4 separate regions of the Homo sapiens genome follow, and all the other regions are linked to region 4. The links come from fine-mapping of genetic effects on gene expression. A gene starts in region 4. Each other region holds a variant in brackets. All regions are shown on one strand. Distances are between the middles of the regions.

Region 1 (5,205 bases), 31 kb before region 4:
GTTAGTGTCTAACCTAAACATCTTTAAGACTAACCTACCTTCTTCATATCTTTTGTTTTTGGACAGTTTCATTACTAGCATTGATGAAACATAGTTTACCAGCAATAAGGACCTGAAATATAACTAGAGATGAAATCGTTCATCTCCAGGTGATGCCACAGGAGCTGTGGTTCTATTCTATCTTTCTCTGCCCCTCTTATCTATCCTTTTAGAGTCTTCTTCAGAACTCTTGGGGAAGGTAGAAGAGGATCCTCTTAACAACCTCTGTCAGTGCCTCCCTTAGAGCCTTAGGTCCTACATTTTCCTTTTATTTTTCCACATGAATCATTATGTACATCATGTAATCTTACTTTTTATTACAAGATTCAGGAAATTTTAGAATACTAATAATTTGCCAATAAAGATGAAATAGTAACTCAGTTTTTCAGTGCATCTTTTGCTCTTTAAAGTTTACATCAGCCCTCCCGAGGTCTGCCTGCCAGTTTGCTGCTGTATCCCAGAGGTTGGCTGCCACTGTGCAGGTTGTTTTGTTCAAATGGTAGAAGTCTCTCGTACTGTCTAGGCCACTCTGTCTCCAGTTTGGCCTCTGACCCAGCCTATATATTTGCTTCCCAGCCTACATGTTCTGTCCTCTCTGCCTGAGAGTACGAGTACAGTGCTAACTGTAGCTTAGGTCATATTGGACTTTATTAGGTTCAGAATTCCCAAGCTATGTTATAGGTCTGTGACTTTTTTGTTTTAAGGTATTTTCTGCACACTTGAGTAGCTTTTTTTATACCTACAATGCATTTTGGTTGAGGAAAGATGGAATTTTTTAGCTTTATCCTCTCCTTGCTCAGGAACAGTAGAAAATTCATTGCTGTTTTCTCCTGCCAGCCATCTTTCTTTTTCCTGCAGCTGGGACAGTTAATCAGCATATTAACTCTGCTCTCTTAAGTTCACACATTAAAACTGCCTGGTGATGTAGTCTTTATTCCTTCATGCCACATTCCTTAAGCAAAATTGGGCAGTATATAAAATTTATCTTTTTAGCAACTCTTTCTTCTATCAGCACAGCAGCTTTTATACTCCTTAAGTGTTGTGAGAAATTATGCAGATTAACAGTCCTGTTTAAGCAGGGTAATAAATCTCTGCTTTGGGAAAATGACATGGTGAACAGAAGAGCTTAATTACCAACCTGGAGCAGTTTCTCAGCCCTGAATGCAGGGGTGGAAGAGGATGCTGTGCTGGATCATTGTGAGCCGAGGGGCTCTGCTTTAAACTCTCCCCTGGAGGTTGCCTCTTCTCTCCATGCCTCTGAAAGGCTGTGGAGCTGAAGCAGTGGTGCTTTATCAGACTTAGGTGTGTAGCATGCAGTCTTCAGCATGCGTATGATTCTAGCAGAATGATTCTCGCCTCAAGTCAGTCAGACTTGCTAGGGAAACTTTGCCTACCCCTGGGAAGCCCTATCTGCTGAGAAACTTTCTCCTGCTCCCTAGCTGGTCTAGGAAGAGCGCATTTGGAAATATGATAGCAGTAAATAGCAGTAAAAGACTAGGGGTCTTCTAACCCAAGTTTTGGGTCTTGCATTTCCCTTTTTGATGTGATAGTGTCAGGGAATAAACCTCAGAAAACTGCACTGTGACCTCGATTTGGAGTTTCCTGTTAAATGGTAAGATGAATAGTATACCTAGAAGAATGGGAGAAAAAGTTTCAAACAGTATGTCTGGGGTATCCCATTTTTGAAAAAGAAGTTGTAATGAAGATAGGCTTAATGTCTGGAGGGAGAAACATGAGGATGTTATTATCTCTAGAGAGGGTGATTATGCGTGATTTTCCTTGTTTCTTTACAGTTTTTTAAATATATATTTTAGCATTGAACATATATTACTTTTATAATAAAAAAATAAAACTTTTTATCTGGGGAAAAAAACCTTTCCATTATTTCTGAGCCAGACTAATTTACTCATTCACTTTTAGTGAGTACCACTTTACTGGATATGAATGAGAAAATCTTTTATATATTTTCCCCCACTATCTGTATTTTAGCATCTCATGCTTTTATAATTCATTCATCTGTTAATACGTGTACACAGCCCAAAATGATTTACTTTGAATACCAACCTAGCCAGGCGCAGTGGCTCATGCCTGTAATCCCAGCACTTTGGGAGGCCAAGGCGGGTGGATCACGAGGTCGGGAGATCGAGACCATCCTGGCTAACATGGTGAAACCCCGTCTCTACTGAAAATACAAAAAATTAGCTGGGTGTGGTGGTGGGCGCCTGTAGTCCCAGCTACTGGGGAGGCTGAGGTGGGAGAATGGCATGAACCCAGGAGGCGGAGCTTGCAGTGAGCCGAGATCACACCACTGTACTCCAGCCTGGGCGGCAGAGCCAGACTCCATCTCAAAAACAAAACGAACAAACAAA[C/A]AAAAAAACCAACCTATATGAGATCTACTGTTTGCTGCCTTTACAGTTCTCAAAGAATCAATCATTTCTTAAAACACACTGGACATTTTATTCAAAGATGATCCAAAAACACCAAAGATATATTTCTGTGGCAGTTTTGGCAATAGAGTATACATTTCTTTAGGAATTACTTGTCATTGCAATGTGGATTACAGCCTAACTTTTGCAGCCAAGTTAGGAGAAATTAGTGCTGTTTTCCCTTTGTTCCCTAATGAGATCATGGCAATTCTTGAAGGCAGGGTTTTCTTTTACTAAAACCACCCTTTTTCCCCAATCTAACTCAGCCTCACACAGTGACATGGAGATTGATAAATGTTTGTCATTCGGTTAGGTGGGACTTGAAAAGAAAATGAGGGCAGGATCACCTTGCTATTTTTCTGTTAGAGTTTGCATAATATTCTGTGAAGATTTGTGGGAGTAACAGCAAGAAAATCGTTGTGGAAAATGAGAGGCAAGTCCAAGGTTAATGAATTACAGGGAAATCTCTTAAAGATGTAACAATAATCATATTAATGACTGTCATTTCTCTTCTGGTTACTATGTACCGAGCTAAGCTAAGTACTTTTTATCATTGTCTCATTTAGCCATTATCCTAAGAAGAAGGTACAATAATCCCATTTTACAGGTGAGGAAACCCAAAACTGGGAGAGGTTAAATAACTTGTCAAAGTCATGCATCTTCCAGGATGCACACCTGGAGGTTGAACTCAGGTATGTGAAGTTTGCATTTTGCTTTCTGCCCAATGCCTGCCTCCACTTGCATTCATTCTCCACTGGCCCTCCGTATCCACAGATTCCCGCAACCAACTGTATTTGTCTGTTTTCACACTGCTATGAAGATACTACGTGAGACTGGGTAATTTATAAACGAGAGGTTTAATTAACTCACAGTTCCGCATGGCTGGGGAGGCTTCAGGAAATTTATGGTCGTGGCAAAAGGTGAAGGGGAAGCAGGCACCTTCTTCACAAGGCAGCAGGAGAGAGAGGGCACAGGGGAAACTGCTACTTTTAAAACCATCAGATCTGGGGAGAATTCCCTCACTATCAGGACAACAGCACAGGGGAAACCACCCCCATGATCCAGTCACCTACCAGGTCCCTACCTTGACACGTGGGGATTACAATTTGAGATGAGATTTGGGTGGGGACATAACCAAACCATATCATCCTGCCCCAGCCCCTCCCAAATCTCATGTCCTTTTCACATTTAAAAACCAATCATACCTTCTCAACAGTCCCCCAAAGTCTTAACTCATTCCAGCATTAACTCAAAAGTCCAAGTCCGAAGTCTCATCTAAGACAAGCCAAGTCCCTTCCACCTATGAGCCTGTAAAATAAAATTAGTTACTTCTAAGATACCATGAGGGTACAGGCATTGGGCAAATGTTTCCAGTCCAAATGGGAGAAATTGACCAAAATAAAGGGGCTACAGGCCTCATGCAGGTCTGAAAACCCGGCAGAGCAGTCGTTAAATCTTAAAGCTCTGAAATCATCTCCTTTGATTCCACGTCTCACATGTAGGCCACCCCAGGGCATGCTGATGCAAGAGGTGGGCTCCAACAATCTTGGTCTTGGGCAGCTGCCCCTGCGTTCCTGTGGCTCAGCAAGGTACAGCCCCTGTGTCCACTTTCATGGGCTGGTGTTGAATGCCTGCAGCATTTCTAGGCACTTGGTGCAAGCTGTCAGTGTATCTACCTTTCTGGGGTCTGGAGGATGGGTGCCCCCTTCTCACAGCTCCACTAGGCAATGCCCCAGTGGGGACCCTGTGCAGGGGCTACAACTCCACATTTTCCTTCCACACTGCCATAGCAGAAGTTCTCCTTGAGGGCTCCTTTTAGCCGTGGCTGGTGCTGGATCCACTGGGATGCATGGAACCAAGTCCCGAGGTTGCACAGAGCAGTTGGGCCCTGGGTCTGGCCCAGGAAACCATTTTTCTCTCCAAGACCTCTGGGCCTGTGATAGGAGGGGCTGCCAAGAAGGTCTTTGACATGCCCTAGAGACATTTTCCCCATTGTCTTGACTATTAACATTCGGCTCCTTGTTACTTATGCAAATTTCTTCAGCCAGCTTGAATTCCTCCTCAGAAAGTTGGTTTTTCTTTTCTACCACATGGTCAGGCTGCACATTTTCCAAACCATTATGCTCTCCTTCTCTTAAATATAAGGTTCAGTTGGGCATCTTCTATATATCATGCACCCATATAGGACCTGAATGTAGGGATGTATATAACAGGATTCCTGCACTGAAGGAATTCACAATTAAGCTTATGAGGGGTTAGGGAGGATAAGCAGAAACTTTTATAGCTAACTGTGATAGGGTGTGAGGAGTAGCTTAGAAGAGAATGGATAGGTGAGCTTTCAGCAGAGGAAACAGCATGAGCAAAGATCCAGAAACAAAAGTTTATGAAACAAAGGTGAGGCATGGAAAGTGGGTTGGGGCTAGATAGTAAAGGGCCTTGAAAGCTTTCAGAGAACTTTGGCAATGGGGAGCAATAGAAGGTTTGAAAACAAGGACATCTTATCAGAATTGTGCGTTAGGAGAACAACAAAGACAGAGTGAAGGGCTAGAAGGAGAAAGCCTAGAGGCAGTTAGGAAGCTCTAATAAGCCTAGAAAGGTTAGCAAGAATGGGGATGAGAGGTGACTTGAGGGGCGTTTGGGATTCAAGTTGATTTGACAAATAGTAATTGTGTACCAATTTTGTGCTGGACCCTGTGCTAGGCTCTGTGTTAGAGATACTGCAGAGAATCACTTATAGCTT
Region 2 (5,000 bases), 370 kb after region 4:
ACCTGCAGCCAGTGGTAATAAAAGCAAAGTGTCGGCCAGTCTACATTAAAGTAGAAGTGGGGATAGGAGTTGAGTGAGTCCTCTCCTCCAACCTACCCCTATTTTTGACAGTAAATTGTCAGAATGAAGCCCTTTACTTTCTTAAAGCAGTTTTCCGTTTCAAAATTTTCTCCCTTTTGCCATTATAAGCCATTCAGTATTTATAGACTCTCCAAACTTCCCAGGAAAATGAAGTGAGGAGGCCTTGGTGACTGTGATAGTGTATTGAGGAATTGCCTGGTGCCTGGTGATAAAGACTTGCAGAGAGAGGTTTTAGGAAAAGATACACTTGTCTCAGACCATGTATTAGAAAGCGGGAAAGAAGAGCTTGCCTGCGAAGAGCTGGCAGAAACTGTGGCGTGGCTCAGGTCTTACTGTCCTTTAATTGTATTATTGTTCAATTTTATAATTCTAATGGAAGATGTGGGCTTTTTACCACAGGGGGGAAAAAAGAAAAGAGGAGAGTCATTTCAATAAAATGCCTATTCAAAAGGTGTCCAGAATAAAAGCTAGGCAAACAGCCCACATCCAACCATAGGTCACCCCACTGTATGTTCATCTGTGCCCCTGAAGTAATTACCATTCTGAATTCTGTGCTTTTAATTTCTTTGCTTTTATTCCTTTTTTTTTTTTTTTTTGTCTGAGACAGAGCCTTGCTCTGTCGCCCAGGCTGGAGTGCAGTGGCACGATCTTGGCTCACTGCAACCTCTGCCTCTTGGGTTCAAACGATTCTGCTGCCTCAGTCTTCTGAGTATGAGTAGCTGGAGCTACAGGCGCACACCACCATGTCCAGCTAACTTCTGTATTTTTAGTAGAGATGGGGTTTCACCATGTTGGCCAGGTTGGTCTCGATCTCCTGACCTCGTGATCCACCCGCCTCAGCCTCCCAAAGTGCTGGGATTATAGGCGTGAGCCACCGCGCCCGGCCTGCTTTCATTTCTATATTGTTTTACGTAACATGTAATATTTTATTTATAATACAATGAAAATAATATTTTCTATGTTAGTTGTTTTTAACTTTATAGAAAGTATCAGATGCGATCTTTTGAGACTTACTCATTTCAATGACTCTTATTTTGCATAGATTAAAATTTGCTAACATTGAGAATTGCTAAGAATAAGTCTGAAGTTTCAGAGGAAGCCAGGGATAAGTTCTGAAGTTTCAGAGGTGTACCAGCTGGTGCATGAACTCTCCTCTTAGTCCAGCAGAGGGTGCAGAGCTCCCATCGGAGCAGGTGCTGTGCTGTACAGGATTATGCATGGCAGAAATTCATGGAACCAAAGGACATTAGAAAAAAGATGGGACAAGGAACTCAAATCATGGTTCCAATATACTGTTGACCAAAAGGACCAGACCACAACCAGATCCAACTAGACAGAGAAAACAAAATCGGGGAACGGAAGCCTAGAGAAATTGCTATGGGGGCTAGAATATAGAGGTTTGTACTGTCTTATATGAGATCTGAAATCTTACCCCAAAATGGGAAAGAAGCTCTTAGATAGTACTAAGTTTATGACACCTGGTTTATGACACCCTCATGTTGTTTTCTCAGTTTGGTTAGAAAGTCCATTGCTGCTCTTATTGTAAGGTGAGTCCTAGACATTCACAGCCCACCTCACACTCCACTGGATGTATTCCTTTCCAGAGCCCTGGAGACCATCTTCATGAATAATAGGAGCTTCATCTTATCCCGTTCTACTTTTGCTGGATCTGGCAAATTTGCTGCTCATTGGCTGGGGGACAATGCGGCCACATGGGATGACCTCCGATGGTCTATCCCCACTATCCTTGAGTTCAACCTGTTTGGCATCCCCATGGTGAGCCTTATTTCCAACCAGGGAACTTTAACCCTTTGTCTGTTGACATTCTTTTAATTAGCAGTCTTAGAGATTATCTGAAAAACCAAGGATCATGTTCCAAGGTGATATGTATTGGAAAGATCAATTTTTATGTGTTACGTGAGCTGCCTTCTGAAGATAGAATGGTAGTACTTTATCACTGAGTTGTCATCCATGGAATCTCTGAAGATAGGAAGGAGACAGCATGAATAAAATGTATTAGTATCACAGGAAAATTCCATCAAGAGAGCATTAGTAAATAAGAAAGTATGAAATTGGGAACTGAATATTAAGGAACAGCCTCAACACAAGGACCATTGTTTGCACTATCAGTAAGTCCGTGATGGATTCTATCTTGTTTCTCTCCTTTGGCTGGGAGTGTGCCCTGTGACTCTGGGATCTCCTTAAGCATGGGATGATGTGACAAAGAGGTTCTCTTTTCCCTTATCATATAAATCTTCACTACATGCTTTCGCCTCTCATTGACCACAGTGCTTGTATGTGTGCTAATTCTCCAGGTAGGTGCCA[A/G]CATCTGTGGTTATAACAACAATGTCACAGAGGAGCTCTGCAGAAGGTGGATGCAGCTTGGAGCATTTTATCCACTACCAAGGAATCACAATGGGCCTGGGTTCAGGGTAAGGTCACCAAAAGAAGTGATGGAAACTTTTTGGATTAGCTAATCTACTGGCTCTTAAAGGGGATTTGAGGAAAATAGTACTACAGGTTGGCACTAACTGCAGCAGAAGGATAAAAAAGTCTTGTATCATAGCCTTAAAAAGCAGGGTATCAATCAAGGTGAGGGTGCATTGGAAGGGATATGTATATACTGAAAGATTTTATTCTTGGAAACTCACCAACAAAGTGAGAAGATTTGTTAAAGTTTCTATGGTGCTGCCATGACTTCTGTTCTATCCTATATAGGATAGGACAATTGGAATTTGTTGGTATTTTATTTCAGTTAATACAAGGGAAATCCCTCATAGGTATGGAGGAACAAGGAGAAAGAATTTAAAGAGGCTTAGGCCAGTGATCTCAACATTTCTTTCCCCTTGTTACAACATTCTACCTTTCTATGAAGAGTTTGGAGGACTTGCCAACTACTTCTCATGACTCATTCCACCTTTAGGCTCGTCTACCCAAAATAGTATTTTCGATGGGCAAGTACATGGAAGTGGGTTCAAAGTCCCCCCTAAGGAGGTGTTTATGATGGTAGCAGAAGCAAGTAGGGTGAGATGTCCTTTCTTTTAATAAAGTAATCTTAAGTTGAAATATTTCCAATTGAGTGGTTTAGCTCTTAATAGGTTCATTAGAATAACTTCCTAATGATAATTTTAGCTCCAATTCTTGACTTTGTCTTTAACCCAGGAAGGATTAACAGTCAAACCTTCAAAGTATTTTATCCCTGGGCTTTTCTGGCCACTTGTGATCTAGAGAGAGATGAACTATTTCTAAATGTCTTAAGCAGGTGGCTGGGAGCAGGTGGGTGGGTGCTCTTCATGAAGCTGTGTCCTGGAAGACTTACATAGGTAAGAACACTCAGATAACCCAGGAAGCTAGGTTTAAGCACGTATGTCCTTTTGATTAAACTAGCTCTATTCAATAAAATTATAAGGAGAGCCACATATGTCAGTTTAAATTTGAAAAGTACAAAAAGGCTGGGCACGGTGGCTCACACCTGTAATCCCAGCACTTTGGGAGGCCAAGGTGGGAGGATCACCTGAGGTCCGGAGTTTGAGACCAGCCTGACCAACATGGAGAAACTCTATCTCTACTAAAAATACAAAATTAGCTGGGTGTGGTGGCGCATGCCTGTAATCCCAGCTACTTGGGAGGCTGAGGCAGGAGAATCTCTTGAACCGGGGAGGCAGAGGTTGTGGTGTGCTGGGATCGCGCCATTGCACTTCAGCCTGGGCAACGAGAGCAAAATTCCGTCTCAAAACAAAACAAAAAAAAAAACAAAGTACAAAGAAACAGGGACATTGTTTTAAAAATACTTTATATAGCTCAATGTGTATCTATATGTGTGTGTGTGTCTGTATATTACATAGCATTATCATTTCAACCTGTGTTTAATACAAAATATTATTAATGAGCTATTTTATATCCTTTTCATTCTACTAGGTCTTCAAAATTTGGTATGCATTTTACACTTGTAGCATATCGCAATTTGTATGCTAAGATTTTTTGTATGCAGTTGAAGTAAAATGCAATTCTACCAAAGCAATAAAGTTGGTTTAATGGAAAAAAAATTTACGTTGATTCAGTTTTAAGATTTATATTTAAAGTAACTATCATCAAATAAAATGGAAAGTTTACTTCCTCAGTCTCAATAAACATAGTTCAAGTGTTCAATAGCTTCATGTGGTTCATGGCCACCATAGTGGACAGCACAGCTCTGGGCTTTTGTCAGTTGACAACCAGGGTGATGGAGGCTGTGGAGTGTTACTCTCTTTAATGTTTGGCCTCAGAGTTTTCATGAGCCCTACACTGGGTGCATAGAGTGGTCTCATGGAGTCATTCTATTTAGAGGGGGAGAAATGGGCCTCTTAGGGAGCAAAAGAAAAAAAAGTTCAGGTAACTTTATCCAAAACTCAGTCTCAGTAACGCAGTATAGGATGACAAGTCAAAAGATGACGTGTATGTCTTTCACATCTTCCAAATTATATGGAAAATGAACAAAATGAATGCCGACCATTGACGGAAAATTTTCATCTCTGGGTCCATGGAAAATTAGATTTTTCTTCTAATGGGTTATTTTTTTACTCTTGGATAAAATCTGCTAAAAACCATCGTCATAATTTATTTGCACAATGTATGTCAAAGAACAAATAGAGGTCACTAATCTTTGGGATAGGGAAAATAAAACAAATGTTGATGGTGGAAACATTACAGATAAAACTGGACAAAAAATGTTAAAATTAAAATTCATACAAGCACATGGAAAGGAAATGATGGATTACAGACCATGGTGGCAGGCAATGTGGCTTATAAGGCAATGGATTTTTTTTTAGTAGTAGTACAACTTATATTATTTCCCAAATAAAATATGAGAAACCTCAATATGTAAAATAAATTGGAGCAACCCTGGAGGGAGCAAGTCCCACTTTATCTCCATGGCAACC
Region 3 (5,205 bases), 74 kb before region 4:
TAGCCACTGCAAAGATCTGAATCTTAAGGGCTTAGAGTACTAATTTTCAATCTCATTACCGCACTTCATGAAGCACTTCTCAGTTAGTGCTTTATTTTAAGTGAAATTAAAAACTTTTTTCATGTTTAAATAGTCTATGAAATCTTTTCCTTACAAGGTGATTATTTCTGAAACACTGATGAACTGCTGAATAATGAACTATATATTCCTTAAGATTTAGAATTCACTTCTGTACCACTTGGCATCTAACCCAGCATCTGCTACATAGTAGGCACCAAACAAATATTTGGATGAATAATTGAGGGGAAGTTAAAGCATAAGCTCTGAGAATATAGTCATTTTTATTTGTCTAAACTTAATGTCCATGTCTTTAAAAACTGGAGATAGGACTACAACTGGTTTTCATAGCTAGCTAACAGAATTGCCCAGGGGAAGGGGTTGGAGCTTGACTAAAGTACAGATTCCTGTGTTGACTTCATGAATCAGAATATCTAGAGGTAGAGACTGGGATTCTATAGTTTTCATAAGAGGAGCAGTTACAATGCAACCAGTTCACATGGAACCAGATAATTTCTAAGGCCCCTTCAGCAAAAGCATTCTTAGATTCAAATATTAACTAGCTAACTGATAAGGAATGTCTTTACTAATGCTATTATGACTTGCCTTTTGTCATCCTCATTCAGACCATGCTGAGCCGGTTGGTGATTTCTCCAACAGGGAAGCTTCCTTCCAGAGGCCCTAAGCATTTGAAGCTCACACCTGCTCCCCTCAAGGATGAGATGACCTCATTGGCTCTGGTCAATATTAATCCCTTCACTCCAGAGTCCTATAAAAAATTATTTCTTCAATCTGGTGGCAAGAGGAAAATAAGAGGAGATCTGTAAGTGCTCTATTACTTATGACTTTTGAGAACTGACCCTACTACAGTCAAGTAGTAAGAAGTGAGTGTTAAAGTAAGATTAGGAACGAGAACTCTATTTGAATGAAATGTATATGCTTACATATTCTCCCCTTCCTAGATATCAATGCTGGTTTTACCTGCTTTATCACAGAGATTCCAACATCTTTCCATTCTGATATGTACTGTAGATGCTTTCTCTATAAAAGGATAAGACAGAATAAGCAATAGATCTCTGGCTTCTATTAGGAAGTTGAGTGGGCTATGGAATTGCATTCAAGGGGTCCCCTCTGGTTAATATGAGGCTGGCAGTTGGGGAACGTGTAGCTCAAACTTCAAAGAGTACGTTGCTGCTTTGAGTCTTGTGTGACTAGTGATGAAAGCTATAGAGCAAGGATTTGAACTTCTCTGTGGGTGATGGAAGATTGGCTGAAGCAAAAAAGCATTGCTTTCAGAGCTGCTAAAGAATAGAAAGCCAAACTGTACTATTCCATAAAGGGCCCTGAATGACAGAAATCATCCAAATAAGGATTGTGCATATTACTCAGGAACATTACTATGTCTCTCCAAGGCTTTTTTATAGAATGGAATCGCCTCCAAAGTGGGGCAGTCATTTATGTTCATATGTACTCAGCGAAATAAATGGACAGCTAACAATGTAAACTTTGCAGAGCATTTAATGTGCTATGTCAAGTTGTTTCTTTGGAGTCAATGAGTATGTGTTAATCAGTCTTTGACCAGAATAGGTTCTCTCAACACTATCTCCTTCTTACTTAAATAAACAGGACTTCAGCACAAGTCCACCCACCTACTTTGGCTACCAAGAATTCGATTGGTTTTAGTTCTTAAGGAGTCTCTGTAAATCATTATACTCTCACCGAAGCCAGCAACAAAGACAGCTAATATGAAATCCTGACACTTTTGTAGCGTCATTTGGTGCTTCTAAGAGAGTATTTTTCCTTATTTTTATAATTTATAAACACTTCATAAAGTATTACAATGTGGTACTAAATCACAAATACCAAGCATTGATTTATTTCCATGAATGTAGTGCCTTCCATTTGCCATTTCTACCTTGTGTTTCTCCAAAAGAAAAATCTATAGCTAGTTGAAATCTTGCTTAAGGATCCAGAATACAAGTATGCATGGCAAAGAGGATGTCTGCTGGTCACTTAGCTTATCGAAGAGTAATTGAAAATATCTCATCCCGGGTTAGAGCAGATTCTGCCCTACTTGCAGTCTACCTGTGAACCGATTACAAAGCCAGATTCTAGGGGAGGGGTGGGTGTCGGAAAGAGAGTGTGGTGTGGCAGTGAGGAGCAAATGCTTTGGTGTCAGACCTGGCTCCAAGTCCCAGTTCTGCCACTTGCTAATTGTTTGACCTAGAGTTATTTAACCTCTCTCTGTCTTGGTTTCCTAGTTTGGGGATAAAGATACCCATTTAACAGTTGCACATATGTTCTGTGCTCTCTTGCTCCAGCACATGGTGTTTTACCTGCTGAAAACCTCACTCTTTTCCCTTAGCTAGTTCCTACTCGTTCCCAGAATCTTGGCTTATATATTCTCTCTTCTGGGAAAGCTTTTCACTCTTGAAATAATTGAGTGCTGTCCATGGTATCCTTGTTATCTTATCCAGTTCTAGGTTCTTGTATTGAAATTTCCTGGTTATCCCTGCCTCCACATATAAACCGAAGAGAAATGAATTGTCTTATTTACTCTTACATCCCTAGAACCTAGCATAGTTCGGCCTCAATAAATATTAATTATATATTGATAAACTTTTTTTTTCTTTTTTAAGTGAGGAAGCTGGTCCAGAGGAAGGCAAGGGAGGGCTGCCTGCCAAGGTAAGCGTAGTTCTTTGTCCCAGCGGCCACAATATAGGCAGTTTATCCTATTCTTTCTCTTCTTCCCCTCCCCTTCTCCCTCTCTCTCCTCCCTCCTCCCTTCTTCCCTACCCTCCCTTTTCTCCTTCCTCACCCTCCCCTCCTCTCCTTCACCCTGCACCCTCCCTCCCCTTCTTCTACCCTCTCCTTCTGCCCTTCTCCTTCTGCCCTCTCTTCCCCATCTCCCCTCCTCCCCTCCTTTCTCCTACTCTCCTTCTCTCCTCCCCTCCCCATCTCACCCCATCTCACACGCTAGCTTTGTAAATGTGCTTTGCAGCTGAATTTATCTGGACCCTAGTCAGGGTCTGTGTTCTCAGCTAGTTGTAACT[C/T]TGCCAGGCAGTGTCTGATATGTATATGCTGGATCATTACTTTAGAGTAATTTTAAAATTACATATTTCTGCTACTATTTTAATCTGGAGAAAAACTCTACACTCATGGGGTAGAGAAGTGAAGGGAAAATTAAGATATTTTTGGTCTCAAAATAGAAAAAGATAATGGAAAAAAGGGGCATAGAGCCAGAGATTTATATGTAAAATTTTAGCTCTTAAATGTATCAATATTTGATTTTATAATGTTCACAATCTTTGATCCATCCCTCATTTGATAATCTAACCTAAGAAAATAATACTGCAAACATTATCCTTAGAGATGTTTATTGTAACAGCAAAAAAGGGGGGAGACCAAATGCCTGATAATAGAAAAATGGCTAAGCTAATTACAGTTTTAAGTCAGTGAAATACTAAATTGCCATTAAGATGTTTATAACACCTTGAAAACATGCGTATGTTAATGTTTAGTGTGCAAAAGACTCAAAATTTTATACGCTGAATGACCATAACTATCTATTGCACATTAATCACAGGGAGAATGAAATGGAGCTATAACCACTGCTATTTCAACATTTTTGAATGGTGGAAACTTCATATTTGTTTTTCCTTTAAATTTTTAAAGTTTTCTGAAGCAAGTTTTATTTGCGTAAATAAATATGTTAATATGTTAAAATGTTAGCACTTGGCTATTGTAAACATCACAGAAAAGGCGGCCACTGGCACAGGTGTTCCTTCAAATGCAAATGTTTCTGACTTATGCCTCCATTATTTTACTGTTGGATTTTATTCCTCACTTATTTTATAATTTATCTCTTGATTTCAGATAGAAATTCTAATATTTATTGAACATTAAATAAGTGCAAAGCATTGTATTTAGTTACACCCTTTAAGGAAAAACATCTGGCCAAACAGGAGTTAAAACCTTTGAAATTTCAAAACAATCTATATGTAAATTAGAAGCTATGAGATATATGTATTTGTGTATATGTGTATGTACATATGTGCAATGTGAATATACATATGCGTGTATATCTTTAAAATCTAGAAGTGGTTAGTAAATACTTCTATGAAATAGAGCTTGGGTAGGAAGAGATTGTATATTAAGATAATTTTAGGCTAAGGAAGTAAATAACTTTTAATGCTATCAAGGCAGGAGAACAGAGTTCAGGTGTAAGAGGGGTATGGTGGGTGGGGAGTGGTCAGGGATAGATGCAGATGGTATACTGGCTTCATTGGTATCTAGGGGGAGGGTAGTCAAGTAGTGAGTGCGCAGTTGGTAGAAGGTCTTGAGGCTTTCTTATCAAGAGTTTGAATTTCTCATGGGAAACAATTAGGCATCTCTGATTCTGTGGTATCATTTTGCAAAAATAATTCTTACTATTAGAAGAGTTAAAGAGAGGGCTGGTAGCTGTAGCCAATCCAGACAAGAAGGGAACAGAGCTTGAGACTGGCTAAGGGTAATGAAAATTAAGAGATCTTGCTGATGAAAGTGACCAGAATTAGATGTTGAAAATGAGGAAGTAGTAAAACCCAAGATTTTTCAAACTCATAAAGTTGGAGAAAAATTCTTCAGGATTGGGACACTGAGAAAAGATGACTTTGGGAGATAAATCAGCTTGGATTTAGATTCATATAAATTTATGGAGATTTTTGGTCATAATAGTTTAATGAGAATTTACTATGTACTTGACACTATCCTAAGATATATTACAATATATGTAATACTGTATATTCTCATGTAATATTTAAAAGAACCCTGAAGAGTGTTGCCATGATCTTCATCCTACAGATAGGAAAACTGAAAGGAGTTCAGATTGGCCTGGGGTTATTTACTACCTGGGCAATGAATGATGTTGCTAGTTGGCCAGTAGCGGGAGTGGTTGCTAGACCTGAGCACATAGTCTGAACTAACCAAAATTGTCAAAGTTTGACAATTTTGACAAAATCATTTCTCCAGGCTGGTATTTTTGGGAAAAGAAACAGAAAACAAGTATGCTTATTCAGCTTGAGATGGAAACATTAGCATTCAGACTTTAAGACACATAAAGAAGGGGGGTCTTTCATTTCTTTTAATTTGCTCCACCCAGGTCCCAGT
Region 4 (5,205 bases):
CTCGGCTCACTGCAATCTCCACCTCTCGGGTTCAAGTGATTCTCCTGCCTCAGCCTCCTGAGTAGCTGGGACTACAGGTGTGTGCCACCATGCCCGGCTAATTTTTGTATTTTCAGTAGAGATGGGGTTTCACCATGTTGGCCAGGCTGGTCTCGAATTTCTAACCTCAAGTGATCCACCCGCCTCGGCCTCCCGAAGTGCTGGGATTATAGGCGTGAGCCACCGCGCCCGGCCCATGCTTTCCCTTTTTATAACATGAGGTACCTTGCATTTGCCACTGTTAAATTCTCAGACTGTCTTACTTAGGTTTTGTGGAGTTAGGTCGGGTGGAAGTAGGATTTCAGGAGACTGTGCTCTAGGCTGTCTGGATTTTAGTTCTTTCCTTCGGAAGGCCATTCTGTAATTGTGTCTCTGTACCTAATGTCAGATCCCAGGCCAGTGTCAGGTAGATGTAAGTGACGGTGGGACCGTTACCTTCAAGAACGTTTCTTCTGGTCACAGCTGTAACATCTTTACCAGAGAAGGGATTTCAGACAGTAACAAAACTGAGTGGTGAGAAGTGAAATGCTCTGCCATAATACTGATACCGTCCCCAGGGATTCTGACACAGCCAGCAGCAGTACGTGTTCATCAGCACTGAAGCAGGGCACCTCCTGATTCAGCAGAGAGACCCTCCCCTCCCCAGCCATGTTGGCGGCTGCCCTAGGATTGCTGATGCCCATTGCAGGGGCTGAATTTCTCATTGGCCTGGTTGGAAATGGAGTCCCTGTGGTCTGCAGTTTTAGAGGATGGGTCAAAAAAATGTAAGGAGTCCCTATAAATTCTCATGATTCTGGTAAGTAGCCACTTTCTCCTACTCAGGCCGATCATGTTGGACATAAGTCTGTTTCCACTTTCCCAGAGCAGTGGTTGGCTTTACTATCTTAATGTCTTCGAGTCCTGGTAAGCCAGGCCAACATGTAGTTTGCCACTTTCTTCAGTGGCTTCTGCTGCATGGAGATCATGACCTTTGTCCCGCTGACTTCTTGTAGCTGAAAAGACTGGGTTTTTGTTTTTTGCTAGTGTCTTTCAAGATCACTTTTTATTTCTCAGCTCTTGTTGGCTGGACCCTTTAAAAACCCTTAACAGGAAACAGCAACATCCTGCATCCCATTTTAAATCTGTTATTTTTATAGATTGCTGTCCAGTGAAGGAGACTGATTGCTATTTGTGATGTTTCTGTTCCACTTGTCTTTTTGTAAAGACATCACAGGAAGATGGAGGACCACACAGCTGTCAGGAGGAGGCTCAAACCAAGGTGCTCATCGCTCTGAACTTCCCCCTTTACATGGTTTCTGCCTTGGCCAGACACTTTTCCATGACCTTCTAATCTCCCTCTGATCTCACCATTCTTGCCATCTCTGCAACACTCATGGCTGTTTATACTTCATTTCCGTCTATTGTAATGGTTATGAGGAATCAGACTTGTCAGAGAATTCTGTAGGAGATGATATGTACATGGAAATCCTAGAGGCCATGACTTGGAAGAAGGATCTAATCAGGCCCTTAACTGTATCACTGACAACAGTAAAAATAACTGTAGATTTTAGAAAAATGAAATTTTTATTCTCAATTCTCCTCATTTCTTCTTTGATTTTGAAACAAAATGAAAGGGTAACATGAAAAACAGGCTAGAAACTGGAGCTTATTGCTCTCTAAGCAATGCAAATCACATCATTTTAATAAACTACAGAAGTCAAAACCGAGTTTTCATATTTTGCATGGGAAGTATCACATTTTTAAAAATTACTGCAGATAATCAAGTTTTCTTTGCCAATATGCTATGTTTTTGATAAAAGGAAGTAGAAAATAGCTATAGTTTGAAAATAATATATTTTAAAAAGAGGTGAGCCTGTATATTTTTTAGGCAAGCACTTTTCTTAGGGGAATTAGCTAAATTATTATCTCAATTTTCTATGTAGTTTAGCCTCTCAACACCGGTAGTAAAGTAGTCAAAAACCTACCTTTATATTTCTGGATACTTTGGTTTTTTTGATGCCAGACTAGCTTTCTGGAAACGTGTCAGTTGGCTACCAGGATCGGTGGCAAATTCCACTGCCAGGCTAGATTGGGGCAGGTGGGGAGAGAGAGGCACTATGTCTCTATCAGAAAGTCACTGAAGAAACACTGTTTTTGGACGAGTTCAAGCCTCATCTAGATTTTTAGTCCAGTAGAAGATCGCGACCACCTCTGCCCCTCCATAGCCTACAGCCAGAGTTTTAGAGTACCAGGCCTTGCAGCTTGGTGGAGATGATGTACAATGGATGCTACCTGGAGGCAGGGACTGTGTATTATAATGGCGCCGTCCCCTGTGCCTAGTACACCGTAGTTTGACACAAAATAAGCACTTTGTAAATTTAGTCCGAAGGAATGGAAATCTCATCCTACAATCCATTCAGTTATTAATAGAGCAACTGAGGCCCAGAGACGGGCAGTGGCCTGCCTGCCTACAGCTTCGTAGAGAGTTCTCAGCATGCTTACTTTTTTTTTTTGAGATGGAGTCTTGCTCTGTCGCCCAGGCTGGAGTGCAGTGGCGCGATCTTGGCCCACTGCAGCTTCCATCTCCTGGGTTCAAGTGGTTCTCCTGCCTCAGCCTCCCGAGTAGCTGGGACTACAGGCAGCCACCACCACGCCCAGATAATTTTTGTATTTTTAGTAGAGATGGGGCTTCACCATGTTGGCCAGGGTGGTCTCGAACTCCTGGCTTCAGGTGATCCACCCGCCTTGGCCTCTCAAAGTGTTGGGATTACAGGTGTGAGCCACCATGCCTGGCCCAGTGTTCTTTTCATGAAAATAAAATTTCTTTTTTTATATAGCATATGAGCTCATAACTGGCACTGTATAGCACCTGAGCATGTTTTGATTTGGTCTTTCTTGTTGAGGGGCCTTGTTACGTTATACCCTGGTGTCTAGACTTTGGCCCAAAACCTTTGAGATGGAGAGCCGGTGTCTGTGGTACTGTTTGCAATCTCTGGTTCTACACTCAGGGTTCATTCATGTAGATGCAAATACAGATGGTATCATAACTTCCAACCTCTCTGTTCCTCATCACAGCTGTTCAGTCTCGCTTGAAGACAGATTACGGAAGGACGAGGCCAAATCCAGATTTTGTGGTGTGAAAATTTACCCTGGTGTGTTATCACTACCAGGGGATCTGACCTCAGCCAGGAGCAGTGAGAGCCTCCTCTCCCCAGCCATGCTGAGCGCTGGCCTAGGACTGCTGATGCTGGTGGCAGTGGTTGAATTTCTCATCGGTTTAATTGGAAATGGAAGCCTGGTGGTCTGGAGTTTTAGAGAATGGATCAGAAAATTCAACTGGTCCTCATATAACCTCATTATCCTGGGCCTGGCTGGCTGCCGATTTCTCCTGCAGTGGCTGATCATTTTGGACTTAAGCTTGTTTCCACTTTTCCAGAGCAGCCGTTGGCTTCGCTATCTTAGTATCTTCTGGGTCCTGGTAAGCCAGGCCAGCTTATGGTTTGCCACCTTCCTCAGTGTCTTCTATTGCAAGAAGATCACGACCTTCGATCGCCCGGCCTACTTGTGGCTGAAGCAGAGGGCCTATAACCTGAGTCTCTGGTGCCTTCTGGGCTACTTTATAATCAATTTGTTACTTACAGTCCAAATTGGCTTAACATTCTATCATCCTCCCCAAGGAAACAGCAGCATTCGGTATCCCTTTGAAAGCTGGCAGTACCTGTATGCATTTCAGCTCAATTCAGGAAGTTATTTGCCTTTAGTGGTGTTTCTTGTTTCCTCTGGGATGCTGATTGTCTCTTTGTATACACACCACAAGAAGATGAAGGTCCATTCAGCTGGTAGGAGGGATGTCCGGGCCAAGGCTCACATCACTGCGCTGAAGTCCTTGGGCTGCTTCCTCTTACTTCACCTGGTTTATATCATGGCCAGCCCCTTCTCCATCACCTCCAAGACTTATCCTCCTGATCTCACCAGTGTCTTCATCTGGGAGACACTCATGGCAGCCTATCCTTCTCTTCATTCTCTCATATTGATCATGGGGATTCCTAGGGTGAAGCAGACTTGTCAGAAGATCCTGTGGAAGACAGTGTGTGCTCGGAGATGCTGGGGCCCATGATCTGGGAAGAAAAGTGTGGTCAGGACACTCTTGGGACGCTCTTTTGATAGCTCTCTATAAGGGAGCTGCTTTCCATGTCTTTTAAGATTTTCCTTCTTTTACACCAATGTAATGAATGAGCAACAGAAAATACGGATCAAAACCCAATACTATGTCTCTTTTGGCAATGCAAAGTATATTTTTTTAATGTACCACAGAAATCAAGGCTAGGGCTTCATGTTTGGTAAAAGAGGTATTATATTCTCTCTACATATAGCAAATAATTCATATATAAATCGTGTTTTTCCTATTATAAAAAGCAGAGATTAGGAACAATTCTGTCTACATATAGCAAAAATTCATATATAAATTGTGTTTTTCCTAGTATAGAAAACAGAGATTAGGAACAATTATAGTGATCATTAATTTTTATGAAATTTTACCTATACATTAATGTTAGTCATTTTAGATATGCTTTTTAAAAAGTATCAAATAATTTCCCCATTTCTCTGCTGTAATGTATCTAATTATCTAACTGAAAAACAAAACAAAACATCTTTATATTTCTGGAAGTTTCTTTGAGCCCTAGCCTTGGCTTTCAGAATAAAAATCAGGCTCACGCCTGTAATCCCAGCGCTTTGGGAGGCTGAGGCGGGCGGATCACGAGGTCAAGAGATCAAGACCAAATTAGCCGGGCGCGGTGGCGGGCGCCTGTAGTCCCAGCTACTCGGGAGGCTGAGGCAGGAGAATGGCGTGAACCCGGGAAGCGGAGCTTGCAGTGAGCCGAGATTGCGCCACTGCAGTCCGCAGTCCGGCCTGGGCGACAGAGCGGGACTCCGTCTCAAAAAAAAAAAAAAAAAGAGATCAAGACCATCCTGGCTAACATGATTAAACCCCATCTCTACTAAAAATACAAAAAATTAGCCTGGTGTGTTGGCGGGCACCTGTAGTCCCAGCTACTCGGGAGGCTGAGGCGGGAGAATGGCATGAACCCAGGAGGTGGAGATGGCAGTGAGCCGAGACCATGCCACTGCACTCCAGCCTGGGCAACAGAGCGAGATGCCGTCTCAAAAAAAAAAAAAAAAGCAGAA

Direction of the effects. Alleles are on the strand shown, and positions count from the first base shown. SD is a standard deviation of normalised expression in the study named. Not every link is listed here.
With allele A in place of G in region 2, the expression in nucleus accumbens of the gene that starts at base 3,091 in region 4 is higher (large effect, 1.1 SD a copy in GTEx).

Evidence for each region. PIP is the estimated chance that this variant, and not a neighbour inherited with it, causes the effect.
Region 1: its variant is fine-mapped to the expression of TAS2R5 in whole blood (TOPMed, PIP above 0.99).
Region 2: its variant is fine-mapped to the expression of TAS2R5 in nucleus accumbens (GTEx, PIP above 0.99).
Region 3: its variant is fine-mapped to the expression of TAS2R5 in spleen (GTEx, PIP 0.98).

The regions. Positions count from the first base shown.
Region 1 is chr7:141,756,213-141,761,417 of GRCh38, forward strand. No RefSeq gene overlaps it. Among named protein-coding and RNA genes, the nearest start is that of TAS2R3, 5.3 kb to the right of the region's middle. The variant C/A (reference allele first, on the strand shown) is at 2,409.
Region 2 is chr7:142,152,333-142,157,332 of GRCh38, forward strand. It overlaps MGAM2 (maltase-glucoamylase 2 (putative)), which reads left to right. Exons shown (of 48, transcript NM_001293626.2): 16 at 1,686-1,857; 17 at 2,397-2,513. Among named protein-coding and RNA genes, the nearest start is that of MGAM2, 43 kb to the left of the region's middle. The variant A/G (reference allele first, on the strand shown) is at 2,407.
Region 3 is chr7:141,713,526-141,718,730 of GRCh38, forward strand. WEE2 (WEE2 oocyte meiosis inhibiting kinase) reads left to right here. Exons shown (of 12, transcript NM_001105558.1): 2 at 684-880; 3 at 2,697-2,742. All of the region lies in intron 3 of WEE2-AS1 (WEE2 antisense RNA 1), which reads right to left. Among named protein-coding and RNA genes, the nearest start is that of WEE2, 7.8 kb to the left of the region's middle. RefSeq lists a silencer at 1,590-1,790. The variant C/T (reference allele first, on the strand shown) is at 3,111.
Region 4 is chr7:141,787,127-141,792,331 of GRCh38, forward strand. TAS2R5 (taste 2 receptor member 5) reads left to right here and starts at 3,091. Exons shown (of 1, transcript NM_018980.3): 1 at 3,091-4,241. The coding sequence starts at 3,236. The coding sequence ends at 4,135. It also overlaps the pseudogene TAS2R6P.